Linked DNA regions of Homo sapiens: region 1 is linked to region 2. Evidence: fine-mapped expression QTL. A gene starts in region 2. The other region holds a variant in brackets. All regions are shown on one strand. Distances are from middle to middle.

What was found.
Region 1: its variant is fine-mapped to the expression of CEL in whole blood (TOPMed, PIP above 0.99).

The regions. Positions count from the first base shown.
Region 1 is chr9:133,023,666-133,035,348 of GRCh38, reverse strand. It overlaps GTF3C5 (general transcription factor IIIC subunit 5), which reads right to left and starts at 4,352. Exons shown (of 11, transcript NM_012087.4): 1 at 4,185-4,352. The coding sequence starts at 4,337. LOC105376306 (a long non-coding RNA gene) reads left to right here and starts at 4,927. Exons shown (of 2, transcript NR_135119.1): 1 at 4,927-5,199; 2 at 6,918-7,197. RefSeq lists enhancers at 4,332-4,591, 4,036-4,687, 4,922-5,171. The variant G/A (reference allele first, on the strand shown) is at 4,630.
Region 2 is chr9:133,057,558-133,065,557 of GRCh38, reverse strand. CEL (carboxyl ester lipase) reads right to left here and starts at 3,577. Exons shown (of 11, transcript NM_001807.6): 1 at 3,490-3,577; 2 at 1,004-1,154; 3 at 796-918; 4 at 321-518. The coding sequence starts at 3,555. GTF3C5 (general transcription factor IIIC subunit 5) reads right to left here. Exons shown (of 11, transcript NM_012087.4): 11 at 7,055-7,744. The coding sequence ends at 7,578. It overlaps LOC124902325, which reads left to right and starts at 4,226. Exons shown (of 2, transcript XM_047424377.1): 1 at 4,226-4,809; 2 at 7,384-7,477. The coding sequence starts at 4,226. The coding sequence ends at 7,477. RefSeq lists enhancers at 3,862-4,614, 4,615-5,366.

The DNA.
Region 1 (11,683 bases), 32 kb after region 2:
GTTAAGACCGTCCCAAAGTGTCCAAATTGATTACACCGAAATGCCCCCAGTCGGTTGCCTAAAGTACTTATTAGTGATAGTAGATCACCTTACGCACTGGAGGGAACCTATTCCCTTTTCAAGTGCAACTGCTAATAATGTAATTAAAGCATTGATTGAGAATATTATACCCAGGTTTAACAGATTAATACAAAATATTGATTCAGATAATGGGACTCATTTCACTGCACATGCCGTCAAGAAACTAGCCCAAGTACTAGACATAGCAGGGGAATACCACACTCCCTGGCACCCACCTTCATCAGGAAGAGTGGAGAGAATGAACCAAACTCTGAAGAGTCACTTAACCAAATTAGTCTTAGAGACTCGGTTGCCATGGACTAAATGCCTTCCCATTGCCTTGTGAAAAATCCGAACTGCCCCTTGGAAAGATGTTGGCTTATCCCCTTATGAAATGCTATATGGGTTGCCTTATCTACACTCCATTGCTGACATTGCTACGTTTGAAACAAAGATCAGTTTCTTAAAAACTATAAACTTGGTCTCTCCTCCACTTTTTCTTCCCTCAGGACTGAAGGCCTCTGAGCACAGACGCCAGCTCTAGAGTTTCCAGCACACCAGCATCAGCCTGGGGATCACGTTCTCATCAAAAGCTGGAAGGAGGGAAAACTTGAACCAGCTTGGGAAGGGCCTTATCTGGTACTCTTAACTACTGAAACAGCGATTCGAACGGCTGAAAAGGGATGGGCACACTACACGCCAGGTGAAAGGAGTAATGTCCACAGACAGGGAAAAATGGGCTGTCACCCCGGGACCCACCCCTACCAAACTAACCCTAAAAAGGGCTTAATAATCACTTGTCTATTTTTCCTTTTCTTTCCAACATAAGGTCATCTTGTCATCAATGTGACTCAGGCTAACCATCCCTTGACCCTTCAGTTCGACACTTGTTCTTACCCCGTGCAGATACGAACAAGCTCAAAGGCAGCTATCCGATGTAGTTAAGTATCCATGTCCATATCGCAGACAGTCAAACAAGTATAAGTATGGAGCCTTAAAGGGCCCCTGTGGTGACTGGGCAAATGTTTGGTGGACCAGTCAATATGGGAGGCGGACAGCCAACCCCCCTCCTTTAAATAAGTTGCGGAAACTCAAACAAAAACTCTAACTTATCCATCGCTCCACTCCACCAAATTGTAAGCCACTGCGGTGTAACCCCTTATTGCTAATTATAGATAATCCCCAAACAATGGCCCAAGAACCCTCTGTATTCGGACGGTACGGGTTAGGAGCAGATGTTACAGGACGGGATCCCATAGGAACCCTCTCTAAGGTTGACTGGACCATCGGCGGTTAAAAACAATGAAGAAACCCAGACCCAGAGTCCAGGGAACGTATGGGACCCAACGCTCTCCCCAAACATATCAGGCCCAGTGTTCCCCTCCGGTCTCCACAACGACCCAGCCAAAGTAGCAGCTGTAGAAGTAAGAGACCTAAAGCAAACTCTAGCAATTGAAACAGGGTACTGAGATGCAAACGCCTGGATGGAATGGATTAAATATTCTGTCCGCACTTTAAACAAAAGTGATTGTTACACTTGTGCACACAGTAGACCAGAAGCCCAGACTGTCCCCTTTCCACTTGGATGGTCCTCCAGACGAGTGGGCATGGGCTGTACGGTAGCTCTTTTCCAGGACCCCACAGCCTGGGGTGATAAATCGTGCCGAGCTCTCTCTCTGCTGTTCCCTGAGGTTCAACACCCTGCGGGTCAGCCCCTGAGGGCTATCCAGCTTCTGTCTCCCAGTGCCAATTTTACTTTGTGTCTCTTGTGACAGGGAAAATTTGGCATTCCTTGGGGACCTAACAGGATGCAGTGAGCTTAAGCCCTTCCAAGAGCTTACCCATGAATCTGCCCCTAGTCATTTATCCTGAGCAGATGTATGGTGGCATTGTGGTGGACCGTAACTGGATACTCTGCCAAGTAACTGGAGCGGTACCTGTGCTCTGATCCAATTGGCCATCCCTTTCACTCTGGCATTTCATCAACCAGAAGAAGTAAAAACAAGACACCGTAGAGTAAGAGATGCCCCCCGTGGTTCCTTTGACCCTCGTGTTTATACAGATGCCACTGGAGTTCCCCGAGGGGTACCTGATGAATTTAAGGCTTGTAATCAAATAGCTGCGGGATTTGAGTCTATGTTTTTCTGGTGGTTAACTATAAATAAAAATGTAGATTGGATAAGTTACATCTATTACAACCAGCAACAATTTGTTAATTATACTAGGAATGCTATCAAAGGAACAGCTGAACAACTAGGACCCACCAGTCAAATGGCTTGGGAAAATAGAATAGCATTAGAAATGATACTAGCAGAGAGGGGTGGCGTTTGTGTCATGCTTGGAACCCAATGTTGTACTTTTATCCCAAATAATACTGTTCCTGACGGAACCATAACAAAGGCACTGCAAGGTCTTACTGCTTTATCCAATGAGCTAGCTTAAAATTCTGGGATAAACGATCTCTTCACTGATCTAACGGGAAGATTGTTCGGCAGGTGGAAAGGACTTATGTCCTCGATCCTTATGTCCCTTGCCATTGTAATAAACGTGTTTATTCTCGTAGGATGTTGTATCATACCCTGTGCCTGAGGGTTAATACAAAGACTTACGGAGACAGCTCTCACTAACCTCCAATTTCCCCCCGCCTTATTCAGACAAACTTCTACTTTTAGAAAACCAAGAACAGCAAAGTCGAGACATGCTAAAAAGGTTTGAAGAGAAAGAAGTATGAAAATCAAGAGGGGGAAACTGTTCTATACAGTGAATTCTTCTTCAAAGGTTCAGCTTGTTCAACTCCCTTGTTCTTTGTTCTCCATCTTCAAAGTCTAACTTCCTTGTTCTTTGTGCCTCCTTGCCCTTAGTTACCCGCTCTGTTTAACTGCCCTTCCCGCCGAAACTAGTCTTCCCACCGAAATCGCTCGTCCCGTCACTGTAACCCACACCCCTGTTCTATTTAAAATAGCCAATTGAGATTAGCTTAGATTGTGTGGTCCAACTCCAACCAGCAGGGACAGGACACAAAAACAGGGACTGACTGCCTTAGGGATAAAAACCCATTCCAGGCTGGGCACGGTGGCTCACGCCTATAATCCCAGCACTTTGGGAGGCCAAGACGGGTGGATCACCTGAGCTCAGGAGTTCAAGACCAGCCTATAGGACACAGTAAATTCCACTTCAAAGATTTTAGCCTTTTACCTTCCTTTAAATTCAAGAGGGGGAAAATTAATAAATACAATGAGTTATGAGTTCCATTTCAAAGAACCAATATGTCAGTATGTTCAGCTTCCCTGTTCTTTGTTCTCCATTTTAAAGTTTAACCCCTCGTTCTTTACGCCTCCTTGCCCCTAGTTTCAGTAAACAACCCCTTCCTAGCTTCTATCACCTGCTCTGTCCTTAGTCATCCTGAGTCACCTGCTCTGTAACCATCCTTCCCACCAAAACTACTCACCCCGCCACTCAGGCCTGTGCCCCTGCCCTCTTTGAAATAACCAATCGGAATTAGCTTAGACTGTGCGGTCCAACCCTAGCCAATATGGGAAAGACACAGCAGTAGAGACTAGCTGTGTAAGAGATAGGAACCCCTTCCCCTTCCTTGTCGGTGTGCTCTCGCCATTGCTCCATCCGCAAGATGCACCCTTCTATAGAAGGAAATTTGCCTTGCTGAGAAAACTGTTTGCCAGAGTGCTGATTCTTCTTTGCGGCACCCAAAATTTATTTCCAACAAGCCTGACCAACATGGTGAAACCCCCTCTCTACTAAAAAATACAAATTTAGCCGGGCGTGGTGGCATGCGCCTGTAATCCCAGCTACTCTGGAGGCTGAGGCAGGAGAATCGCTTGAACCCTGGAGGCGGAGGTTGCAGTGAGCCAAAATCGCACCACCGCACACCAGCCTGGGAAACAAGAGCGAAACTCCGCCTGAAAAACCAACAAAAAAACAAAAACAAAAACAAAAATCCTTCCCTTCTTTGTTCTGTTGGCTCTCTTGCAGCGGCCAGAAGAGCGAGCAGCACCCTTCTGCGTAAGTAAATTTGCTAAATTTCCCTTGCTGAGAAATCCTTTGAGTGCTCGTTTTCTTTGCGACTCCGAGCTCTTATTCCAACACCGAGATTCCCAGCCCCTTACCCGGGAGACGCCTTCCTCGCCGCCCAGAGTCGGCAGCATCTTAGCCACATCACGCACCACTCCCGGGTACTCCACGCACACCATGCGTCGCTCCCGCCTCAGCTCCACGGGGACGGCGGCCCCCAGCCCCAAATCGGCCGCCTCCGCCGCCATCCCTGTGCGTCTGGCAGGGCCCGCCAGGGTCCGTCCCACAAAGTACTCCCAAAGGCCTCGCCTCAATTGTTCCGCGAAGGAATCGTTCCGGGCTCCCTCACCGCTCGCGTCATCCTAACTCCCCGGGCTCAGCAAGACGCGAGGGCCTCCAGGGAGCAAATGGCCCATGGGAGGGCCCATGTCTTCGGGAAAACGACCGCCGTGTCCTCGACTTTTTATTTAAAATTAAGCGAGTTAGTCCACCGGGCGGGGCAAGCACCAGTCTCTCCTACTAGCCAGCGAGGGACCCGGA[G/A]GATAATAAGACACAAACCTCCCTCGACTTCAGCCAATGAGAATCCGAGGGCCGAGCGAGTTTTTTTTTGAGCCAATGAGAAGTCCGGAGGAAGCTAGGTCCCACCTTCTCCTCCAGCTTCGTACGTTTTAACCAATAAAGAACTAGAGTTAACCACGTCCCAGCCCTCTTCTGGGTATTCCACCCAATGACACCTCGGGGGCGGGCCAGAGGCAGACTTCCGGCCCGCCTGCTTGGTGGGGAAAAGGTCCCGGCTGAGAATTGATTTCCGCATTGGGTCGGCCTGGTATTCTGTCGGTGTTGGCGCTTCTTCTCCCAAGCTCTTGCAGCCCCCTCGGGACTAGGTTTCCAACGGCGCTTGCGGGGGGCCTCGCGGAGGTGGATGTGGAAAAGGCGAGCGCGGGGGAACTGTGCTGTAACCATCGCCCCGCCTCCACAGAAAGCCCCGAAGCGCCGGCTCGGGGCCGAACGCGGGCATCCGGCGTTCGTCTGTTAGGCAGGCAGACATTAAGCGCCTACTGTGTGCTGGGCCCTACTCAAGACCCAGGCGGGGAGAACGGCGTCTGTCCGGTAGGCGCCCAGGGCTGCTGCAAAGCCCCGGAGCGAGGAGTGTGGCCCCTCAAACAGGGAGGAGATGAGGTCCGAGGCCGACCGAGGTCAGAGACCCGCACCCACGAAAAGGGTCCACCCGTCGGGCTGGCTGCTTCCCAGTGCCGTGGAGAGCCCCTGAAGGTTTCTTTTTTTGAGAAGGAATCTCGCTGTGTCGCCCAGGCTAGAATGCAGTGGCGCTTTCTCGGCTCACTGCAACCTCCGCCTCGGGTTCAAGCTATTCTCGTGCCTCAGCCTCCCGAATAGCTGGGATTACAGGCGCCTGCCACCATGCCCGGTTAATTTTTGTATTTTTAGTAGAGACGAGGTTTCACCATGTTGGCCAGGCTGGTCTTGAACTCTTGACCTCAAATGATCCGCCTGCTTCGGCCTCCCCAAGTCCTGGGATTACAGGCGTGAGCCACCGCGCCTGGCCCCTTGAAGGGTTTTATGCGGAGCAGTGATCCCATTCATGCATTTGAAAGACCTCTCTGGCTGTTGTGTGGAGAACAGATCAAAGGGGGAGAAAGTGAGTTCAGATAAACCAGCTCCGAGACTGCATAATCCAGTCAAGAGATGAAGGGACTGGGTTTGAGAATATTGGGAGATGAGAATCATGGCCCAGCACAGTGGCTCACGCCTGTAATCCCAGCACTTTGGGAGGCTGAGGCGGGAGGATCAGTTGAGCCCAGCAGTTGGAGGCCAGCCTGGGCAACAGGGGAAGACCCCATTTCTACCAAAAAATACAAAATTAGCCGGCCATGGTGGTGCATGCCACAGTAGTCCCAACTACTCAAAAGGCTGAGGCAGGAGGATCCTTTGAGCCCTGGAGTTGGAGGCTGCAGTGAGCTATGATCATGCCACTTGCATTACAGCTAGAAATTAGTAAGAGCAAGTGACCCCTTGGGTATGGGTACCCCGTTTCTGAAGTGATTTTTTTTTTTGAAAGACACGATCTCCCTCTGTCACCCAGGCTGGAGTGTAGTGGTGTGATCATGGCTCACTGCAGCCCCGAACTCCTGGGCTCAAGTGATCCTCCTGCCTCAGCCTCCTGAGTAGTTGGGACTACAGGCGTGCACCACCATACCCGACTAATTTTGTATTTGTGTGTGTGTGGCGACGGGGTCTCACTATGTTGCCTAAAGTCATTTCTTTTTGTTGTTTGTTTGTTTTGAGACAGAGCCTCACTCTGTCACCAGGCTGGAATGCAGTAGCACAATCTCGGCTCACTGCAACCTCCGACTCCCTGGTATAAGCGATTCTCCTGCCTCAAACTCCCGGGTAGCTGGGATTATAGGCATGCGCCACCACGCCCAGCTAATTTTTGTATTTTTAGTAGAGATGGGGTTTCACCATGTTGGCCAGGATGGTCTCGATCTCCTGACATCATGATCTGCCCACCTCGGCCTCCCAAAATGCTGAGATTACAGGCGTGAGCCACCGTGCCCAGCCTGTGATTTCTTAATCAGAAGAGTACCTGATTGCTCTCCTTGGGTTTAAGAAGGCAGAATAAATAGCTACATGAATTCAGCCCACTGAATACATTCTAAAGTGTAACCTCAATGTGAAATATATTGTATTGTAATTGGAAGGCTGGGTCAGGAGCCCCAAAGCTTTGAAAGAACACCTCCTGAGAGTACAGTGGGAAATCAACCACCAGCAGATGATGGTTGAGCTAGAAGAACCACGTGTTTCCACAGGGAGCTGCACACGAGGACCCGGTGGTCCCTGACCTGCCCTCTCCAGGGGGGACCTGCACTTTCTGCCACCAAAGAGGATTCTCTGTAGGGAGGCCAGGATGATTCTCCAGAATTTACCATGCCTTGAGATGAAATTTCCTTTCAAACTTCCTTGTGTCCTTTTGTCCTCATTCCATGTTCACCAGTCTTCTGACTGTTTCATTTTCCAGAAAGGAGAAACTGAATAACATGTATATTTTAACCTTGCCTGCAATTGTAAATCAATAAATTGGTGTATTTACATCAGATCCCTGTGAGTTTGGTGCACATAAGACAGTCATGAAGACTTGGTCACTGTTGGTAGAGTTGGCCAATAAAATATTGAACACAGTTAAATTTGAATTCATGCAATATTTGGGGCATATTTATACTAAATATGTGTTATCTGAGATTCATATTTAGCTAGGTGATTTTTTAATTTGCTAAATATGGCACTCCCACCTCCGGGTATTGAGATTGAGTTTCTGAATTTGGAAAGCTGATTCCAAACCACCTGGAACCTTAGTGAGCCCACCATGCAATCCAGTGACCCTCTAGTTTGTCTGCTGTATTTTTCCTCCTTACTGAAGCAAGAGTGATCTTTCCAGAATGAGATCGCAGTCTGTCCCTGCCTCCAGTGACTCCCCAGCATCCCTGGCCCACCACCTGGCTAACTACTCCTCTCCTTTAGGTTGTTGCCTTAGACTTCAATTTGCCTGGTAAATCCTCCCTGACCCCAAAACACTAGTTTGGTGCCATCCTCGCTGCCCGGGGCCCCAAACCCACTGCATCATGGAGCCGGAAGCACTATTATTTTTTTTCTTTTTTACTTCTCCACTTGAGTGGCAACTTTCTGAAGACAGGGACCATGTCTGTCTTATTCACCACTGTCTTCCCACTGTCACCACTGCTTTGCATGGGGCTGAGCACCGAGCAGGTGCTCAGGAAGTATTTATTGAACAACTGAATGAGGCCACTTGTCTTATTTGAGCCTTCAATCGAGCCCCGGGTCAGGGCATGGTCATAGGGACACTAAATCAAGGCTTGTCAGACAAGGAGTGTCCCTTAGTGCACAGGAAGTGAGGAGGGGCTGAGTGTGAGGGGAAGACAAGGGACCAACCCCAGGGCATCAGACCAAGCTTTTTGAGATTAGACTTGGTCCTGCCTGAGATCCAAAGCGGGAGGTCAGAGGCAGGAGCAGTAAGGCAAGGCTGGGAGCAGAGACAGGCCAAGAAAGATCAGGAACCCAGTTAAAAAGTAGCTTTGGCTGGGAGCGGTGGCTCATGCCTGTAATCCCAGCACTTTGGGAGGCTAAGGCGGGTGGATCACTTGAGGTCAGGAGTTCGAGACCAGCCTGGCCAACATAGTGAAACCCCATCTCTACTAAAAATACAAAAATTAGCCACATGTGGTAGCACATGCCTGTAATCTCAGCTACTCGGGAGGCTGAGGCAGGAGTCTCGCTTGATCCCAGGAGGCAGAGGTTGCAGTGTGCAGAGATCATGCCACTGCACTCCAGCCTGAGTGACAGAGTGAGACTCCATCTCAAAAAAAAAAAAAAAAAAAAAAAAAGAAGTAGCTTTAACGTTCTCCAAAACCTTGCAGCATTCAGAGCAGGCAGCTGTGACAATATTTGTGCACTGAGGGGACACTTTCTCTGCCTGGATTCAGGGCATATGCTATGGTTTGAAAATGTCCCCCAAATTTCATGTGTTGGAAACTTAATTTGTCTGCCCTCATGAATAAATTAATGTTGGCTCTGCCCTCATGCATGGATTAATGTCGCTGTTGTGGGAGTGAGTTGCTTATCTCTTTGTTATAGAGGCAAGCTCTCTCCGGCTCTCTCTCTCCTGCCCTCTTGCATATGTGCCCTCCACCATGTTATGGCACAGCAAGAATGCAAAGACCCTTAGCAGATGCTGCCACCGTGTCCTTGAACTTCTCAGCTTCCAGAACTACAAGAAACAAATGTTTTTCCTGTAGGAATTACCCAGTCTGGGATATTCTGTTATAACAGCAGAAAACAGACTAACGCAGCATGCTTCTCGCATCTTGCCCTGCTGTGGGGTGGCAGATTTCATCCCACTGGACAGAAGGGCACTACAGCTCTAGCCACCTCCTATGGGCGGATTGGGCACACTGGGGGTGGGGGGCAGCCTCTATGTGCCACTTCCACACGGGAGAGATTCGGAGCTCCTGAAGGACGCTTGGGTGCTGCAACCAGCGTTTGTTGCTCAGGGAAAGGGTGGATGTAGGGACCAGCCCTACAGGGTCTGTGGGTTTTTCTCCCCTTGTGCGGAGACGAGAGATCGTAGAAATAAAGACACAAGACAGAGAGATAAAAGAAAAGACAGCTGGGCCTGGGGGACCACTACCACTGAGACGTGGAGACTGGTAGTGGCCCCGAATGCCAGCCTGTGCTGTTATTTATTGGATACAAGACAAGCGGGCAGGGTAAGGAGTGTGAGCCACCTCCAATGATAGGTAAGGTAACGTGGGTCACGTGTCCACTGGACAGGGGGCCCTTCCCTATTTGGCAGCCAAGGTGGAGAGAAAGAGAGGGAGGAGACAGCTTACACCATTATTTCTGCATATCAGAGACTTTTAGTGCTTTCACTAATTTTGCTACTGCTATCTAGAAGGCAGAGCCAGGTGTACAGGATGGAACATGAAAGCGGACCAGGAGCATGACCGCTGAAGCACAGCATCACAGGGAGACGGTTAGGCCTCCGGATAACTGTGGGCGGGTCAGGCCCTCAACAAGAGGTGGTGGAGTAGAGTCTTCTCTAAACTCCCCCAGGGAAAGGGAGACTCCCTTTCCCGGTCTGCTAAGTAGCCGGTGCTTTTCCTTGGCACTGATGCTACTGCTAGAACACGGTCCGCTTGGCTACGGGCGTCTTCCCAGACGCTGGCATTACCGCTAGACCAAGGAGCCCTCTGGTGGCCCTGTCTGGGTGTGACAGAGGGCTCATGCTCTTGTCTTCTGGTCACTTCTCACCATGTCCCTTCAGCTCCTATCTCTGTATGGCCTGGCTTTTCCTAGGTTATGATTGTAGAGCGAGGATTATTATAATAGTTGAATAAAGAGTAATTACTACAAACTGATGATTAGTGGTACTTACATATATCTATGATCTATATGTAGTATAACTCTTGTTATTTTATATATTTTATTATACTGGAACAGCTTGTGCCCTCGGTCTCTTGCCTTGGCACCTGGGTGGCTTGCTGCCCACAGGTGGGGACCCCTGGCACAAGACACAGAAGGGTGCATCTTCCACCACCACCCCTTGGAGCTGAGCTCCTCTTTCCAGACTCAGGGACCCTCCTGCTGAAGGGACCGAGGAGCTGGCCCCCTCGGGGATGGTTTGGGTTTTAGGAGGAATCTTGGCCTTAGACAGGACCTGGTAGAAGTTTTGCCATTGAGAAGCTTTGAGCTGCTGTTGGCATGAGGAGGGAGGATGAGTCCGCTTCGCCCGTTGGGCCTCACTTCTGTGCATGGGCACTGCCCTGCTTGGTTTGAACATTTTTTCAGCTTAAATGTTTAATTTCCTGTGACGTGAGTCGGGGGGGGGGGCGGAATTGGATCTTACTGTCACCTTGCTACCGGACTGCTGGCCTCCAGAACTCTGAAAATCACATTTGTGTTGTGTTTTCAGTCACCCAGTGTGTGGCGATTTCTCACAGTCACCTTAGGAGATGAATACAGATCAGGGAGTCCTTGAATTTCCAGAGCATTTCCAGAATTTATTTTTGGGTCATAACATTTTCTTTTTTTTTTCTTTTTCTTTTTGAGACGGAGTCTTGCTCTGTTGCCTAGGCTGGAGGACAGTGGCATGATCTCGGCTCACTGCAACCTCCACCTCCCAGGTTCAAGCAATTATCCTGCCTCAGCCTCCCAAGTAGTTGGGACTGCAGGACGATGCCACCTCACCTGGCTAATTTTTGTATTTTTATTAGACACGGGGTTTCACCATGTTGGCCAGACTGGTCTCGAACTCCTGACCCCATGATCCACCTGCCTCAGCCTCCCAAAATGCTGGCATTACAGGCGTGAGCCACTGCGCAGGGCCGAGTCATAACATTTTCTGGCATAAGCAGGTCAGGTTTTCTTCTCTTAAGTTACTGGAGCTCACTCACTATAAATCAGGCCTCCCCGCTTCATTCTTTACCCCTCCTATGGGGCCAGAGACCACCCATTTCCAGGCTGGGGGTCCTCTTTGAGTTACTGACCGTCACTGGGGGCACATGGTGTAAATGTCGCAGCGCAGCCTGGGTGGCTGAATTGCAGCAAGTGTTGTCCCCACCCACTCTCCAGACTATATGTTAAAACTCTAACTCCCTGAGCTGGTATTAGGAGTTGCTGCCTTGGGAGGTGATGAGGTCACGAGTGTGGAGCCCTCGTGGCGGGATTAGTGCCCTCATAGAGGAGACAAGAGTGCGTGCTCACTCCACTCTGCTGTGTGAGGTCACAGCAAGAAGGCGGTCGCCTGCCAGCCAGGAAGAGGACCTTCGCCAGACCCTGTATCTGCCCGCACCTTGACCTGGGACTTCCCAGCCTCCAGAACTGTGAGAAACAAATTTCTGTTGTTTAAGCCCCCGAGTCTATGACATTTTTGTTCTAGTAGCCTGAACTAAGACCGGTCACTTCACAGCAGCCATTCAGACATCCATTTACCAAATGCTCCCCGCGATGTGCCCGATCCTGTGCTGGGCTCGGATGATGAAGCCGAGAGGACCGCCCCCCT
Region 2 (8,000 bases):
AATTTTTAATTTTTGTGTAGAGATGGGGGTCTCCCAGTGATTTTCAGGCTGGTCTTGAACTTCTGCGCTCAAGTGACCCACCTGTGTGGGCCTCCTAAAGTGCTGGGATTACAGGCGTGAGCCATCTCTCCCGGCCTCTGCAGCATCTTTTATTTTACTACAGCTACCAAGGGCCTCCTGCATCTCATGATTCTACTCCAGCTTCCGGGTCTTTCTGTGAACCGCCACTGGTTGTTTGGGGTGAGGGGTGCTGAGGAAAATCTCCCTGCTGGGCTCAGCATGCTGGTCGCCCCACCTCAGGGCCGAAGGCACCCACGCACCTGGCAGATTGGCGTCCCCAGTGCTGAGGAACCCAAGGGGGCCGACACGGTAGTTGAAGGTGACCACGATGACGTTTCCGCGTGTGGCGATCTCCTCGCCGTCATACAGGTAGTTGTTGAGGAAGTTGGCCCCATGGCCGGACCCCATGAGGAAGGCGCCTCCATAGATCCAGATCATAACGGGCAGGTCCCGGGAGACTGAGATGGGGGAGCGGCTGGTGACCCCAGACGCCCCGCCTGGCCCTGTCTCCAGCCGGTCCCCTGTCCCTGTGCAGCAGGTGCCTGGGGCCAAGACAGGGAGGTGCTCCAAGGCGCTGCCCTGCCCCAGGCTGGGCAACGGCAGTGGGCGCTCCCCTCCCCGCCTCTGTGGGATTTCATGGAAGTTCAGCTTTGCAGCCCCCAGACTCAAGCCAGGAGTAGACCCGGGGCAGTGGCTGCATGGGAGGGTCCCTTGGGGAGTAGAGGGGAGGCAGACCTTGCTTCCTGCCCTGGGGCACCCAAATGTTGAGGTACAGGCAGTCTTCATCCCCGTAGGTGCTGTCCTGGGTGATGGTGGCCTGCAGGCATCTCTTCTTGAAGTTCTTGGCCTTCAGGGTCCCTGCAGGTGGCAGGAGTTGGCATGAGGAAGGCAGCCGCCCTCACCCGCCCCGCCGCAGGGCCAGTCCGGCACCACCCACTCCCACCTTGCCAGCCAGGATGTGGCTGAGGATTTTCCAGGGCCTTGGTGGGAGCTGCGAAGGGGATGCCCTTGAAGATGTCCACAGAGTCACCCAGGAGGCCGAGCTTCTTATTGACGCCTTCCACGAACCCACCTTCTGTGTACACGGCGCCCAGCTGCGAGGGAGACACGGGCAGGGTCAGGGGGGCTCAAGCCCCATCGGCCTGAATCCGGAGGGGGCAAGGCAAGCCGACTCCGCGTGCCCAGAGGCAAAGACAGCTTCAAAGCAGGACAGCTCTGCACAGGAGACCCAGGCAGCACCCCCTGCCCTGCAATGCTCAGGGCTTTAGGATTCCTGTTCCTCTCCTTATCCCTGGGGGTGTCCTGCTCCCAGAATCTTAGAGGAAACTGGTTCAACCAGTGTTCCCACTAGGGAAGCCGGCCAAGAGGTGGGATGGAGGTTTGGGTTCTGGCTATGGCCGCCCAGCTTTGACTCCGATCCTCAGTTTCCCCATGTGGAAGACGAGCAACAGCCGTGTCTCCTGTCGGCCTGTTTGCCATCACATGGGAGGCCTGTCCAGCTCCCGGGAGGAGTGTACCCAATGCTCAGTGTACCCGGGATGTTTCACACCAACCTTCCTCCTTTCTGAGGGGTGGGGCCTGCTTTTCCCTCCTCCCATCTCCCTGCACAGGGCCTAGCTGGCTGGGCACAAAGTCGATGGCCCCATGCCCAAGTCCCCACAGTTCCTGAGCCCCCTGCTGGTAAAGAACCCCCTAGGGACCACACCTCCCACCCCCGCCACGCTTCCCTGTGCCATGAAAATGGCCTCTGTGCACCAAGCTGTCCACCCCCACGAGGGGCCTGGAGGTTGGTGCTCATCCACCCTCTGTCCCTGACGGAACTGAGGCTGGGCAGCTTTTGGGCTTGAAGTCACCCTGTTGAGAAGCAGCTGTCTGCCCCAGTGCCACCTCCTGTCCATCTTGGGCAGCAGCTCCCTCTTCCCGTGGTGCATGGTGGGACCAGGTCATTGCTTGCTGGCTGTCACCTGTGCCAGGTTCCAGGTGGGGAAGGGCAGGGTGGCCCTACACCCCCAGGCCCAGCCAGGGTCCCAGCAGCCCTCTGAAGTCTAGGGTGATGGGCCCCCTGTCACACTGGTGTGGGAGAGTGCGGCGGTTGGAACTGGAGGAAAGGAACCAGAAGCAACACATGCAGGCATCGTGGGCATCCCCTGCGAGGCATCTGTGTCTCCTTGTGCCAGTGGCGTGATCCCTGTGCAATTGAGACTGGCCAGAGGGCCTCAGGGTGGGGAAATGGGGAGGGGTCGTGATGACCTGCCGAAGGCCTCTCAGCACCCCAAGAAGAGCTCGCCCAAGAAGAAGGTGACCTCTCCTTTGAGTCAGGAGCCCAGGACCACTGCCCAAACCTCCCGGTCCCAGGGCCAGGGAGTGTGGAGAGCAGGCAGCAGAGGTGGAGACAGGAGTCCCCAGGGCCTGAGACACCGCAGGCGGCAGAACAGCGTGGTTGGGATCTGGGGTCCCCTGTGTGACTCCTGCTGGGGGCAGGGACTGGGCCGGGCACCGACACCGGCTTCCTGTGGGGCTTGGGGTTTCTGTGGCTTCTCCTTCACAGGCAGAGAGGGTAGAATTTATGGATGCCTCGAGAGAGCTCCTGCCTGCCGGCTCTCTTTCTGGAGGGACCCGGACCCGGGTGTGGAGTAGCTCGGCTTTCAGCTTCCTGCACAGGAATAGGAGGCAGCAGCTGTGCCATGCTGGGCAAACTGCCTGCCTGCTTCTCTCCACCCGTCTGCCTGCTCTCCACACTCCCTGCCCCTGGGCCCGTTTCCCCTTCTGTAAAATGGGAACAACAGAGAGGTGGAATCACCAGGATTAGCAAATGTAAATTCAAGAGGCCCAGTTACATTTGAATTTCAGGTAAACAGTGAATTGTTTTTTAGTATGTTTCATTTTTTTCTTTTTCTATTTTTTGAGACAGAGTCTCGCCCTGTCACCCAGGCTGGAGTGCAGTAGCGTGATCTCAGCTCACCGCAATCTCCACCTCCCAGCTTCAAGCGGTTCTCCTGCCTCAGCCTCCCGAGTAGCTGGGATTACAGGCACCCACCACCACGCCCGATTAATATTTGTATTTTTAGTAGAGACGGGGTTTCACCATGTTGGCCAGGCTGGTCTCCAACTCCTGACCTCAAGTGATCCACCCACCTCGGCCTCCCAAACTGGTGGGATTGCAGGTGTGAGCCACTGCGCCCGGCCCATAGAAATTTGTTTCAAATATTGCATGGGACATACTTACACAGCAGTTCTTGGCAGTTTATCTGAAATTCAAATGGAATTGGGCATCCTGTGTTCTACCTGGCACCTGTCCCCATAGAAATGAGCGTGAGTGCCCGGGATCTGCTGCGGGGCTGTGCTGGGCTCTTTCTCAGCCTGGCCCGAAGTTTCCAGATCTGATTGAGCGAGAGAGCAGCAGGACCTGCCCCTCTGCTGGGCTCTTACCTTCGCGGCACTCGCCACTGCCCAGCAGCAGGTGAGGCCCAACACAACCAGTTGCAGGCGCCCCATGGTGAGCATCAGCCTCTGGGTGGCCCTCCCCCTGGGCCTCGGGTATTTATGGAGCTGGATCCAAGGTCACATGCTTGTTCATGAGCTCTCAGGCACTCCCTCCCCTCTACCCCCTCAGGTGCAGGGAGATCCAGTTTTCCCCAAACCCACAGTGCACCTGTGCAGGTTACCACTTACCTGGGAGCAGAGGCAGGTGGCAAGGTGGCGGGTGGTAAGGGGGATGGTGGGGCCGGGCAGGGTGCACAGTGCCCTGCCTTCTGGTTTGTTCACAGGGCTTGGTGTCACTGTCAGAGAAAAGGGCATACTTTGTCTCCATGTCTCCATGCCCTGCTTGTCCCCTAGGTCCCCAAAGGGGCTTCAGAGGGGACCGAGCACGTGACTTCTGGGACAGAAAGGGCAGCATGCTGCAGGCCCTCCACTCATGTGGCTGACCTTATCTGTACGAGCTTTTCCTGGGGCCCGTGGAGCGGGTAGTCCAAGCTGGGTGCGAATCCCAGAGCAGCACAAGGCAGTCCCACTCAAGGGTGTGGAAGTGTCACCATCCAGCCTGATGTGTCCTGGGAGGGAGGACTAGAGGCTCAGGGGGTGTGGGTGGGGGGGTGCGGAGGCATCTAGCCCAACCATGTAGGTTTCCCTGTGGAAACAAAGGGCCCAGCCGAGGCCCTGGGGCATGCCCAGGCAGAGTGACAGAAGGGGAGGGAAAGAGGCCAGTGGGAGGGAAGGGAGAAGGTCGTGTGAGGTTGTGGAGGAGGAGGCGACTCGTATTTTCTGTGAACAGGTATTAATCCTGGAGCCAGGAAAGGCTCTGAGAAGTGAAAGAACACCACGAACAAAGTCTTCAGATGGGGCCTTTAAGCTCAGCCAGTGTGAGGTCACCCTCACCGAGACACTCAGTGGCAGCTCCAGCCACCGCACAGCCCTCTGCAGTGATGGGAACAGGGTGAGGGCAGCCAGAGCCTTCCCACCCAACAGTCCCCCAGGAGACACTGGGGCCTGTGCTTCCCACACCAACCACACTCCCGTTCTGCCACCCCTGCGGCCGGTGCCAGGGACCGAGTGGACCTGCAGAGCCACGTCTGTCCCTCTGTCTGTCGACCACAGCCGGTGCCAGCAATTCAGGAGGCCTAGTGGGCGAGGGAGGCTGGGGAAAGGACTGGAGGGTGGGAGGAGGAGCTCGGCCACAGGAAATAAGGGGCCTGCAGGTGGCTGGGGCGCCCCAGGGCAAAGGCATTTGCCTCAGACCTTTGCTGCAGTGTCATTTACAGTGGCTAAGGAGGAAAGGGGAGGGCAGAGGGGAGGCAGCAGGGAGAGGAAGGAGGTGGGGGAGGGCTGGGGCAGGGCAGAGGGAAAGGAAGGCCCCAGTTTATATCTATGTACATTTTTAGAGCAGCTTTAGGTTCACAGCAAAATTAGAGGAAGATTACAGAGATTTCCCGTATGTCCTCGCCCCACTCCAGTCTCCCCCGTTATCAACATCCCCCACCAGGGGGTACAGCTGTTAACACCTGATGAATCCACATTGACATGTCATTATCACCCGGAGTCCACAGAGGTTTTTTGTTTGTTTGTTTTTTTGAGACAGGGTCTCTGTCACCCAGGCTAGAGTGCAGTGGCACAATCATAGCTCACTGCAGTCTTGAACTCCTGGGTTCGAGGGATCCTCCTGCTTTAGCCTCTGAAGTAGCTGGGATTACAGGCGTGCGCCATCACACCCAGCCGATTTTTGTATTTTTAGTAGAGACTGGGTTTCACCATGTTGGCCAGGCTGGTCTCAAACTCCTGAGCTCAAGTGATCTGCCCGCCTCAGCCTCCCAAAGTGCTGGGATTACAGGCATGAGCCACCGTGCCCAGCCTCATACTTTATTTTTTTAAAATTGGCAAAAAAAAAAAAAAAAAACTTATTTCCTGGCTCTGTCTCTTCCAAAGCCCTAGCAGTAACGAAATCCCAGGAGCAAGCCCCACCCCTGGTGACCAGACTGGGGTCTCTAAACACCATATTCACACCGACTGAGTGCACCCTGGGGAGATGGTTGGGCCGGGTCCGCAACAGGAAATGCCAGGGAGGGGCTGGAGCCTGCAGCATCGTGGTAGCTGTAAGTAAGGAAGGTGCCCAAGACCCAAGGCTTGTGTCAAAGGACTACAGAGGTCAACCTGAGGCCGCCTCTGGGCAAAGATAGACAAGTTGGGCATGAAAAAGCAAGCCTGCAATTGACAGACGTGAGAGTTCACCAGGCAGCCCAGGAAACACGCTCTCCACCCCCTCCTGCCCTGTCACTGGCCCTTGCCAGGGCACTAACTCATTGTTCTGAAAACTGTTAGAGGTGATAACAGGCATTTTCCCTTCTTTTCTGTGAAAATAGTATTTCAGGGTAATCAAACAGACGATGAGGAAGATTCCTTTATAGGATTCCAGCTACTAAATGCAGAGGGAACGATATAATTCAAAAAAATCACCATTTTGCACCCTTAAGGAAGTAGTAGGTCCAGGCAATTATCAACGGCTATTCAAAAGCCATTAAATAGGCTGGACGCAGTGGCTCACACCTGTAATCCCAGTACTTTGGAAGGCTGAGGCGGGAGGATCCCTTGAGCCCAGCCTGGACAACATTAGTGAGACCTCATCTCTACAAAAATTCAAAAATTATCTGGGCATGGCGGTACACAACCTGTAGTTCCAGCTACTCAGGAGGCTGAGGTGGAAGGATCACCCGAGCCCAGGAGGTTGAGGCTGCAGTGAGCCCTGATTGCATCACTGCACTCCAACCTGGGTGACAAAGCAAGACCATCTCAAAAAAAAAAAAAAGACCCACAAATGAAACAAAAAACCACAGAAACCCAAAAACCGTTAGATAAAAGACCAACACATCAGGCTGACAACACCTAAACCTGCTGGTCAATCCTAGTAAGCAGACCTCCCGTGCATGCAGACTGACGCAGCCTAGGAAGAGACCTTGAACCCGAATCTGGCTGAGCCTCCACCTGTCCCCAGGAAATACAGGGGAGAGAGGAGCAGGTTCAGCACCACACAGAAGCAACCAGCCAATCCAGAACAGGGCCATTCTCTGACAACTGACTGTTTCTTCAACAAATACTCGGCACGCACACAGGTTGGGAGGGAGTGCTGCTGCCGACTTGGGGAGACACAAGAGGTGCCTCAGCCAAGGGCAACATGGGGAGCGGGGCCAGGCAGGCAGGCTCGGTGGGCTCAGGACCCACTAGTTTCACACTGGGCAGCCACAGGACAGCAGGGCCCGTTTCCCATGACTTTGTCAAGAAGGTATTCATTTAGAGAAGAACTGACCCCAGGCCTGGAGTCCTCCTAGCTGCCCTCACCCAACCCGACCACATGTGAGGGGGGCACAGGCCAGCACTGCCAGCATGTCACTGAATGAATGAAGGAATGAATGAAGGAATATATGAAGGGACAAAGGGGGCCCAAGCCCCAAGGCAATAAGAAGACTCCCCTGCAGCGCCAACATTCACACCAAGAAACCAAGACTTCTCGGGAAACTGGTTTAATAAGGACAATTCCAGAGGGGCCTGGCTGTGGCCAAAGCTGTGCCAAACGGTTGGGATCCAGAGCTAAAGGCACTTCTTGCCACGTGAGACCATGGGCGAGGCTCCCCACGCTATCTCCACCACCACAGTCATGAGAGCCAAGCGAGACTGGCCTGTGGCCTGGGGCTCCACAGCTGCCCAGCTCCACCTCCGGCATTTACTGGTCTCATCCTGAGAGGCATTGGGTGCCCACTCACTGGCTGGATGCTGGGCTGGTTCATGGGTGGCAGAGCCAGGGTATACCCTTTGGGGATGTCCCTAACCCCTCAGGACCAGAGGCAGCACCAAGCAGCATGTCACAGCCAGTGCTAGGGTCAGCTGCACCCTTTGCTGGGACTCTAGCTCTCCTCAGAGGGCCTCCTAGGGCCATTCCGGGCACTGTGGGTGGCAATGGGGAGCCCCGGCTCCCTCATTAGGCCAGACACCAGTCTGGCCGGGTCAGGGAGGCCCAGCCTTGGGCCCTGTCACACGTAGTCCAGAATCTCTGTCTCCATTTCGTTTTCACTGCCGTCGGATGGCTTGAAGTCCTCCTCCTCCTCTTCCTCCTCCTCCTCATCCTCCTCGTCTTCCCCAGACTCGTACGTCAGCTGCTCTTTTCCGCCATCAGCCTTGGCTGAGCTGGAAAAGAGAGCTGGGGCCGGAGGAGACAAGGCCATGGGTGTCCCATGCAGGCTGCCGGGTGGCCCCAGAAAGGCCACCAGGCTCTGGGGAGCCTGTTTACTACTATAAGGGTCCGAGCTCGAGCTCTTAAGAAGCTGGTGGGTAAGTATGGGGTGGAGGCCCCCCAGGGAAGCTGTAGTTTGACGGGCACCCAGGGGAATCCTGCAGCAGGGGAGCCATGAGCAGCTTCAAGGGCCCATGGACCCTCAGGAGTGAACACACCATTT